Regions from separate parts of the Homo sapiens genome. Here region 1 is linked to region 2. A link means that fine-mapping ties the variant in region 2 to the expression of a gene that starts in the linked region. Tissue or cell type: whole blood. Region 2 holds a variant in brackets; the other region holds the start of a gene. All regions are shown on one strand. Distances are from middle to middle.

Region 1 (5,389 bases), 27 kb before region 2:
GAAAAAAATTGAAGTTTGTGTGAAAGGCCAGACTAATAAGAAAGATACATTATATTATTTTCATTTTACCTGAAAACTGATAGGGTTTACTTTTGAAATCTAACTGGAAGAGGAGTTGACATTATATAATGTATAACAGACTTTCTAGCAACTGGTATTCCTGCACCCAAAATTAATACTCATATTTCAAGGAATGTCCTAGCTATTTAATGGCATTAATCTGAGCATGTGTTTAATGGAAAGTAGCCTGGAAAAGATTGAAATACAAGACAATAATAGATTAAGCCTTATTTTGCCCATTCATTGTTTAGGACTATTTAAAAAAAAAAGAAAGAAAAGAAAACTCTCAAAGTAAAAATTTCACAGGGAAAAATTTCTATATCGACCTCCTGCCTGCAGTGTCTTTATATCTGATCATCTGAAGATTTTGCTGAAGCTGCCTACATTCTTATGTGGGTGTGGTAGTAGTAGTGGATGAGTAGCTATGGTAGAGATAGATGCTGGTGATATAAATAAAGCCAGTGAGTCAGTCAGGGTCTCAGAAAGGGAAAAAAAAAAGGCACAAAGAAATGTGAGTTTGAAGACAATTTAATGAAGTTGGTATTGAGTAGTAGGTTGTTTAAGAAAACAAGTGGATATTAAAAAATAATGGATGCTGGGCACTCAGAGACTACTATCAGGAAGCCTTTATCAGCCCCTTGGCCTGAAGAAAGAAGGCAAGACAAGCCTGTTACTATATTTCCATAAAAGCTGTAGCTGTAGCAGGTGGGTGGCCAGAGAAGGGACATATCCAGTGAAAACCCTCATGTCAAAGCAGGCTGGGAGTAGAATAATAAATAGCCCAAATGCTGTCTCCTCTTGAACTATAATCTGTCACGCATCACATTGGCTCAATTCAACTGAACACCGAAAGACAAAGGAGTTTGGGCTTACAATATGTGAAAGTCAGCCCTCCAGTTTACAGAGCAGTGCACAAAGGGCAGACAGCAAATCTGGGGAGGCAAACGGCGTAAGCACCAGATCCTTCTAGCTAGATGAATCTTTTGGGTTCTGTCTGTCCAAGCTGAGTCATCTCATATTCCACATAAATCCTCATCATTGACTGATTTGGCTTTATCTGAATTATTTTCTTTTCCGACCTCTGTATTTCATATTACTGGAGTAATGCTTGTTTAGGCAGACTGACTTTGCTCCCAAGTTACAGCTCCCAAGTTACAGCTAACAATGCGCAAGCATGACCTGTGATTCATGTCCCAATCACTCATTTGTCTGATTGAATGTATGTGTGTCTGTGTGTGTATTTGTGGGTGTGTGATTATATTCATTTTTATTTTAAGAGATAGATATCAATCATTAAGTTCTTTAAATCCAATTTGATTTGGCAGAAATTTCTTCCATATTCTCAAATATATTTAAATATTTAGCTTTTGTCAATATTTTAGGCTACTGTGATTTTTTGTATCTTTTCTGAAGCTTTCACAATTATTTACATACAAATATAAAAAGGGAATCCCAAAGGTATTCACTTACTCATTTATCCTCTTTGAAATTTTACTATCCAGTTTAGGAGAAGCTGAGGTTCATGTACATCATGGAGAAGGTCTCTAAGATCTTATTTCTTTTGTAAGGGCAAACAGCACCTTTTGGAAGGCTGCCCTAAGTTCTTTGGTCTGAAGTGCATAAACTGTAGGGTTGAGGGAAGGGGGGATGATGTTGTGCAACACATTAAGTAGAACTGGAATCAAAGTAGCCTTCATCTCTGTCAGATGAGTCACTGAAATCACTACAACAATAGTGTAAAAGAAAAGGATGAGGGTGAGATGTGAACTACAAGTGCTCAGGGCCTTGGCTGCAGCTTCAGCTGAGTTCAGTCTAAGTACAGAGTACAGAATCAAAATATATGACAGTATAATAAGACTTAGATCACTCCCCATTCCAAGCCATGCCAGAACCAACTGGCAAATGCTGTTTGGCCTCCTGTCATCACAAGCCAGGCTTGTGACCCCAAGGTTAGAGCACAGGCAGTGTTCAATTTCATTCTTGGAGCAATAATCACGCTGTGCTGCAAGCACAGGCACTGGAGTGACAAATAAGCCATTTCTCAGCACCATGAACAGGGTAGCTTTTAAGATTAAGGAACTGGTGACAATTGATGGATAGCGAAGAGGGTGACAAATAGCCACATATCTATCAAAAGCCATGCAGAGTAGGATACCAGACTCCATGCCCACAAAGAAGTGAATGGCATAAATCTGAGCAAAGCACTCAGGGAGGCTAATAACCTTGGCATCAAACCAGAAGATGGCCAGGATCTTAGGGATGATAGTAGTGGCCAGACCCATGTCTACCATACAGAGGATGCCAAGGAAAATATACATGGGCTGCTGTAAAGAAGGGTTCTGCCAGATGATGATGAGGATGAGGGTGTTTGCAGCAAGTGCTGAGAGATACAGTAGTGCCAGGGGCAGAGATAGCCAGTGTTGCCAGCTGTGAATGCCCGGGAATCCCAGCAGGATGAACTCAGAGACCTGGAATTTGGAGCTATTGGAGATTTTGAGAGATGCAGACATATGATTCATGATTCAACATGAATTTCAAATCTCTATTTGTATTGTTCTCAGTTATCACAGGTTGGAACCACCACAGAAATAAAATTGTAGTATTTTTCTAAGCCTTTCTTCATCTCTTTAGAAATTATATAGATTAAATGGATGTGCTTGTTTTCTTCATATTTATCTCAGTGTTACTTGACTTGATGCAGAGGTTTATTAACTAATAATAACTAGATTTTTTAAATGAAGAATTATGGGAGATGAAATTTATAGCTACATCATTTCAAGTTGATATAGATGTCCATTAACGTCTTACATAGCCTTTCAAAATTTTGATATCATGGACTTGTAAAGGTTTCCAGAAATAAATTATATTGAGGATTTGGGGATAGTTTTCTTTCATGTTCTATTTTGTATGCACTTCTGAGGAGGTTGCAAAAGAGTAGCTTAAAAGGAAGTTAGTGATTATGGCTGAATTTCTCCATATGAGAAGTCATATAATGAAGACATACCTTAGTAAGTTTTTTTATAGTTGAATCTTAGAGAACCTATAAAGACATAAATACAGGATTTAGGTAAAACTAATAAGAAGCTTTTAAAGATTCCTGTGATAACAACACAATATTAGATCAACTCTATTCATTTTTTAGTGAATACAGGCACAATGTTGTACAGCTGGTCTCTAGAACTTATTCATCTTGTACAACTAAAACCTTCTAACCATTGAACAGTAATTTTAACTTATTTAACAAACAAGAATTATTTGTCCATAATGTTGAAGGAATTGCCATTCAATGCTCAAAAATCATGGTTAAAATTAGACTCATTATCTTTTCTACAACTTTGTTGTTATCCATTTACTTTTTATTCTGCATGGTGGCTCGACCAGACAAGCTTGAATCTAGAAAACTAACCTTCCCTTACTGCAAATAATTGCTTATCATATTGTTGATTTCTTTTCTTTACTTCATTCATATGCACTCTTTTTTTTCAGTATGCTTTCTGCAACCTGCCTGGAGCAAATGTTTCTGATTTTCCATAATTCTTTCTTTCTGCTAGCAATCTGATCTTTCAGACACTGGTATTCCTTTGCTTAAAATAATTCATGGTTTCACATTTTCTTTCAAATACAATACTTTATTATTACAATCCTTTATTTATTTACCATTTATTATTTATTTACTATTACAATCCTTTATTTTGCATAAAACACTCTCAGATATGACTCAAACCGAAGTGAATATAATCTCTTGCTTTGAACTTCTTTGTATTTTACACTGCAGATACATATAATACTTACTCTATGCTAAAATTAGTAATTTTTCAAGGCATTTTATTTCCAATATTTTTGCCATGGTGGAAGCTATTGCAGGTTTATGAGCAAGAAACAAAAACTGGAAAGCTATGTTCAAAGGTTAAAATGTTATTTTTAATATATTAGTTATGGGTTGATTTTTGATATAATTATTGTTAAATACCAAAAAAATCTGGAAGAAAATAAAATTCTTTTGTTGTATCAATTCTTATTAAAAACTAAATGTATTTCCTTTCAGAGGTTTCTTACTGCCTGTATGTTTGAATAAACATATACTCCCAAATGATGGAGTAAATCATCCTTCTTTAATGGTGAATGTAATTTGATAAAGAGTAAAATTATCTAAATGTATCTACAGAAAATTTCAATGACTAAAGAGCACAAGCAATAATGGAGGTAAAGCTAGTTTGACTTTGAGCTTTTAGAGGAGAATTCTGAAGGGGTTCAACACAATAGTTTTATCCTGGATGCGTGGAAGTATGTAACCCATTTGATGTACAAGGCCTGGCATTTTTACTTAATACTCATTTATTACTTTACATCCTAATATCACATAACATTTTATCTTTGATGTTTTCTCTATTAAAATTTTTTTCTGATTTGTATATGTGTGATACAATTAAGAGAAGTAGTATGTTTGAGCTCACAGAAAAAGAATTGTTTTTAATTTTTTTTACAATTATATTCTAGCATGACATAGAATACGATTCTGCTATATAAAACAGTTAATATATTAACCCTGAAGATAATCTGGCAGTGTTGTTTTTTGATTACAGACAAGGTAACTTCTAGTGCACCATGTGAGCCTTAATATTTTCTAATTCTGACTTCAACCTTTTTTGGAAAGGCCCTCTAATCCTCTATATGCTACTAAAACAGAGAGAAATGTCAATCTTTTTGCAGAATGTTGACAAAACAACATAATGTTTAGGATAAGCCATTGAACTCTCTGGAATTTAGCCAAAGTGACCATGAGAAGATTTTATCACTTACCTTGCTTATGAACACAGACTCACAGTCTGGGATCCTAGGCGTGGCAGAAGTTTTCTACTGGGCAAAGACAGAACTTTATGAGAAAGATGCTTTAACACAAGATAAAAATGTGTTGTCAGCTAAGATGTGGCACAGAAATTATAAACTTCTGAAATTTATGGAGAGTAGTAAAGCAGCTCAGTGACCTAAGCATAATAGATCTCATTTGCAGACATGATGAAAGACCTATAGAGAAAGCTGAATTCCTAGGATGTTAAATCCCACTAGAATAGAAAGCAGATTAACTCAAAAACATGTATCCTATTAATGTAACCTAAGAATTTACATGAATAGAAGAATATCTTCATTTATTAAATCAAAATGGACCTATAAAGGTGAGAAATTTTAGAGTGTTTGAATGGTTTTTAAGCACACAAACTCTGGGTGTTCTAAATTCTGTGGCTAGGAGATTTATTTAAACATTTTTAAAGGAGAAAGCTTTCATTCAAAAATACATATTTAGTTCTGTCTGTGTTTGAAAAACATGTTA
Region 2 (5,360 bases):
ATTATTTCTGGTGGTATTTGTAAGGGTATTTCTGGTTGTATTTGTAAGGGTGTTTCTGGTTGTATTTGTAAGGGTGTTTCTGAAAAAGATTAGCACCTGAATAGCTGGACTCAGTAATGGCTACCTCTCCAAAGCTTGCCCTCCCCCAAGTTGCTGGACATCATCTAATCCATAAAGGATCTGAGTAGGAGAAAGGGTTGAGGAAGAAGATATTTGCTTCTTTTCCTGCCGCAGTACTTGAGCTGAGACATGTCACCTCATCTTTTTCTGCCTTTGTACTGGCATTTATACCATCAGCTCCCTGGTTCTTAGGGCTTCAGAGACACACTGACTTATATCACCAGCTTTTGGGTCTCTGGTTTCCAAATGGCAGATAATGGGAAGTCTTAGCCTCCATAATCAAGTAAGCCAATTCCTCATAATAAATACATATCTCTTATTGTTCTGTTTCTCTGGAGAACCCCGACTAATACAATATATTTCTTCAAGAATGTTTTGTGTCTTTGCTATCCTAGGTAGTTCTACTACTCATCCTGTGTTTGAAAAAAGACTTAAAAAAAAAAAAAAAGAAAAGTACCTAGGATGGTAAATGCAATGGTACACACAAGTGTTTCATTACGAGAAACAGATCTGAACAGCATAAGGCTGTCTCTTATCAAGGACAGCTGAGCCTAGACATGACCTTCTTTACTGGACATATGGAAACTCATATTATCTGCAGCAAGATTTTGGAAACTGAAGAATGAGACTTCAGTAGAGCCAGCTATTGTTTTATTGAAGCAAAAAGAAAACAGAACAAAAACAAAAAATTGTTTCCCAAGACATTGAAATGGCTGACATCTTTTCAGTAATAATCAGAACAATATTTATTTTTATATTTAAAATTCATAGAAAAGTGCCTTACATTTAATAAAAGTTTGTTTCTCAAAGTGATCAGAGGAATTAGATATAGTCTTGAACACCAATATTAATTTGAGGAAAATACACCAAAATACATTAAGTAAATTATTTAAGATCATAGAGCTTGTAAGTGAAAAGATAAAATTTGACCTCAGAAACTCTGAGCATTAAAAATCCACTATTAGCAAATAAATTACTATGGACTTCTTGCTTTAATTTTGTGATGAATATGGGGTGTCACTGGTAAACCAACACATTCTGAAGGATACATTACTTAGTGATAGATTCTTATGTACTTTGCTAGATAACGTGGATATGAGTTGACAAGTTTCTCTTTCTTCAATCTTTTAAGGGGCAGAGGAAATGAGGAAGAAAAGAAAAGGAATTACAGCAATACTGTTCTTTCTATAGGAAGGATTAGATATGTTTCCTTTGCAAATATAAAAAAAATAATAATGTTTACTACTAGTGAAACCAAGGTATTAGGAAAATAATGTACAAGCATCTCTTGCAAGAAAGGGTAAGATTGTTATGAGTGAAATCGTGCCTTCCTCAAATTTATATGTTGGAGTTTTTATTCCCAATACCTCCAAATATTATCTTATTTGGAAATAAGGTCTTTGTAGAGAATATAATGTTAAAATGATTTCATTAAGGCATTAGCGGTGGGCCCTGAGCCAGTATGACTGGTGTCTTAATAAAAAGGGAAAACTTGGGCACAGAGATGTACATAAAGACAATGTGAAGAGTCATAGGGACAAGATGCCTTCTACAAGCCAAGGAGAGAGGCATGGAACAGAGCCCTTCCTTGCAGACCTCAGAAAGAACCAACTCTGCTGGAATCTAGATTTGGGATTTCCAGCCCACAGTACGGCAATACAATTACAGTTTAAATCAGCAATCTATGATGCTTTGCTATGGAAGCCCTAGCAAATGAATACAAAGACATTCTAAGTAAAAGAAGGGGAAAGAAAGGAAGAGATGGTCTCAGTAGAGATGAACTCAGGTGCAGAATCTGAGTCTCAGCACAAGGGCTACTATGCAGAAGTGGGTAAAGGAATGAGAACACTCAGGAGCTCGGTGGGCACACAGTCATGGGGACTAGGCAGTTCCAAGGATTGAAATACGGATAAGCAGGTCGAGAAAAGCGACATCCAGAGAACTTGTAGATGAGTGCTCCGTGGTTTGTGACATTGAAAAATGAGACAATGCCTGCCTCATAGTCTAGGAAAACCCCAATACGACAGGGAGGCACAGCCATAAAGAGAGTCAAAACCTTGGGATCAGAAGAGGAGGAGTCCTCAAAAGCATTATATTCACATGTATTCTGTAATCCTATAACCCAGTAGCCATATTGAGGTCTATATCTGGAGTAAACTTTTGAATAATTTACACTTGGATCAAAAGCAAACCCAGAGCTCTTCCTTTTATTCAGACTACTTATTTTACTGTGTACGCCCAGGATCCAGGCAATCTTTCCAGACACATCTACTTCCCAGTAATATTTCCCCGAAGAGAAATATTGGCAGCCGAAGACACCAAAAGCAGAAAAATCACATGGATTTGAATTCTTAAATGTGCAGGTGCGTACAGTTTTCACTTGT[C/T]TCTGATCCACAGAAATAGCAACATTCGAAGTGGCACTGCCTGGATTCAGCATCACGTCCACTGTAGAAAAAATTACCAAGTCAAGTGAAGGATATGGGATAGGTGTGTCTTACAGCATTGAGAAGAGACATATTGAAAATGAAACTTGTGTCGATATCAAACGGAACTTGTGTTGATAGTCAGAGGTTAGTAGGACCCTTAAGAAATACAGGGTGTAAGACTATAAAAATTAGCCAAGCGTGGTGGCACACGCCTGTAATCCCAGCTACTTGGGAGGCTGAGGCAGCAGAATCGCTTGAACCCAGGAGGCAGAGGTTGCAGTGAGCCGAGACCGCGCCATTGCACTCCAGCCTGGGCAACAATAGCAAAAATCTATCTTAAAAAAAAAAAAAAAAAGAACTACATGGTTTAAGCATGTTTGGGGAGGAACACATGAGACTCAGATTATGAGATCTAATAGTAACCACAATTCTGAAAGGAAGTGATTTGAAAACCCCATATCATCTTACCCCAGTAGTACTGGACATCTGTCAGCTCTGAAACGACAAAAGTTTCAGTGATGTTGTTAGAAGCAAATAAGTAAGTACTGACACCTGTCTCTTCTCCAGAGTAGGGAAAGGAAAGGGGGAATACTGGGATTCTTTGCACTGGTGAATGAGAGGATGAATCAGACACCTGGTCATTCCCCCTAAGACAGGACCACATCTACAGCACAGGATTTTCCTCCTTCTCTGGCCCACCTCCTCTCCTATATCCTAACCTAAAAAAACCTCCCGCTTCCCTATTGAGCCCTGATACTAAGAAATCCACATTCACAGCCTTCCCCTGAATCCCCTTACCTTTAAGAACTTGCAGCATCCCACTCAGATCTGGTACTCGGAATACACTCTTTAGTTTCTTGGAAACAGATTTTGGCTTCTTCAATGTCCAGCTTTCACTCCTAGTGATAACAAAAATTGATAACCTTTACACCTTTGCCCTATTTCTCTCCATCCAAGATCACTGTCTCTTTCACCTTTCACCATACTTGCTGACGCACTTGGACCCTCTTCCCTGAGGACAGTAGAGGGGAGATGCCTGACACTGGAGTCCAGAGAAATGTGCTCATGTCTACCTGTCTGTGTGTAATCTTGGGAAGGTCTTCCCCTCTGTGTAATCTTGGGAAGGTCTTCACTTCAACGATGTTCGCTTTCTTACTTTTAAAATGCAATAATTAACCCCATGCTTTCTACCTCTTAAAAATGAATATAAAATTAGATAAAATAATAATGCTTTTGTTTGTTTGTTTGTTTGTTTGTTTTGAGATGGGGTCTCACTCTGTTATCCAGGCTGGAGTGTAGTGGCGCGACCTCGGCTCACTGCAACCTCTGCCTCCCAGGTTCAAGCCATTCTCCTGCCTCAGCCTCCCAAGTAGCTGGGATTACAGGTGCCTGCTACCACATCCAGCTAATTTTTTTGTACTTTTAGTAGAGACAGGGTTTCACCATGTTGGCCAGGCTGGTTTTGAACTTCTGACCTCAAGTGATCCGCCTGCCTCGGCTTCCCAAAGTGCTAGCATTGTAGGCGTGACCCACTGCACCCAGCCAATAATGCTTTTAAAAGATATTCAGTGCCTCTAAAAAACTTATTTAATATTTAGAAAAGTCATTGCCATCTCAGTGGGTCCACCAGGAAGAGGCCAGAGATGTGGGTTCCTAGACAGGTGGTCATTAAGGAGGCCATAGAATCTGTCTCCTGAGTTGTTGAGAGATATCAAAGTAGGATCCTATATTGAAGAGCTAAAGGGTTTCCAAAATCTGTTATCCCAATATGAGACCTAGAGAATAATGTCTGAGGTTTCAAGTTATTTGGGGAAAGACAAATTACGATGACTAAATTAATTAATAGTGGTCTGATTTTCATGTGTTTAAAAAAACTTTGATGTTGCCAAGTAGGTGGGCAACTTTAGACACAAGAATATTATTTTTTCCTACAAGACGGTAAAGTATGTGAGCAAGAAAAGGTTATGCTAGCACCAGGACCAAAGCCACTATTCCTCAAGACTTGAATCTATTTTTCTAGAAATCTAAAAAGCACCACCTAGAAAGTTATTGTTTATTTTATTCTCAGGGAGGAAAACAAACATAAAGGCGCTGTCTCTGAAAAATTTGGAGTCTGGCATATAAAAAGGGCAGAGCCTCACTGCAATAAGACAGGCATCTATGCAATATGGAAACAACAGAGACAGAGGTTTGAATAAAGTGAGTGAAGTCATGGGGTTCTGATATTGCAAACTCTTATTCCTAAGGCCTCCGTCGACCCTAACTCTGTGATCTCCCAACACCAAAATTTCTTACAATTGAAAACTTTAATCTGTGACTAGCAATTTGGGACAATTTAATACACAAATTTCCCAGCCTTTTGATTTTTTAAGTTGTTCTGATTGAAGGAAGATATCTCTCAGGACTATAATTCTCTTTTCAGACAAATAAGACCACATCTCTCTTCCACATATACCTTTTCATGACGTCAATCACATCCTGGGGAAAAGATAGAAAACATGAGTCAAGATAGGGTTGCCAGATTTAGAACATAAAAGTGGCTAGTTCAATTAGAATTTGGGATAAACAATATATTTTTTGTTATATATATGACCCTTATAATATTTAAGATATTCTTATACTAAAAATATTACATTTCTTTTATCTGAAATTAAACTTTAACTGAGCATCCTGTATTTTGTCTAGCAATGCTCAAAAAAGTAATAGGCCCTCCTATCTTACAAAGTTTTATCCACCTTCCTCCCCACACTCTTACTATCCCTGGATATGGTGGGAATAAATAGATGGTCACAGACTGGGGACAAAGTGTGGAGA

Evidence for each region. PIP is the estimated chance that this variant, and not a neighbour inherited with it, causes the effect.
Region 1: it holds the start of OR56B1, and the variant in region 2 is the best candidate, but not a certain one, in a credible set for the expression of OR56B1 in whole blood (TOPMed, PIP 0.70).

The regions. Positions count from the first base shown.
Region 1 is chr11:5,733,707-5,739,095 of GRCh38, reverse strand. It overlaps OR56B1 (olfactory receptor family 56 subfamily B member 1), which reads right to left and starts at 2,648. Exons shown (of 1, transcript NM_001005180.3): 1 at 573-2,648. The coding sequence starts at 2,579. The coding sequence ends at 1,605. It also overlaps a transcript of OR52N4 not described here. RefSeq lists a silencer at 4,731-4,931.
Region 2 is chr11:5,706,258-5,711,617 of GRCh38, reverse strand. TRIM22 (tripartite motif containing 22) reads right to left here. Exons shown (of 8, transcript NM_006074.5): 5 at 5,002-5,024; 6 at 3,345-3,445; 7 at 3,015-3,041; 8 at 755-2,565. The coding sequence ends at 1,970. Among named protein-coding and RNA genes, the nearest start is that of TRIM22, 19 kb to the right of the region's middle. The variant C/T (reference allele first, on the strand shown) is at 2,505.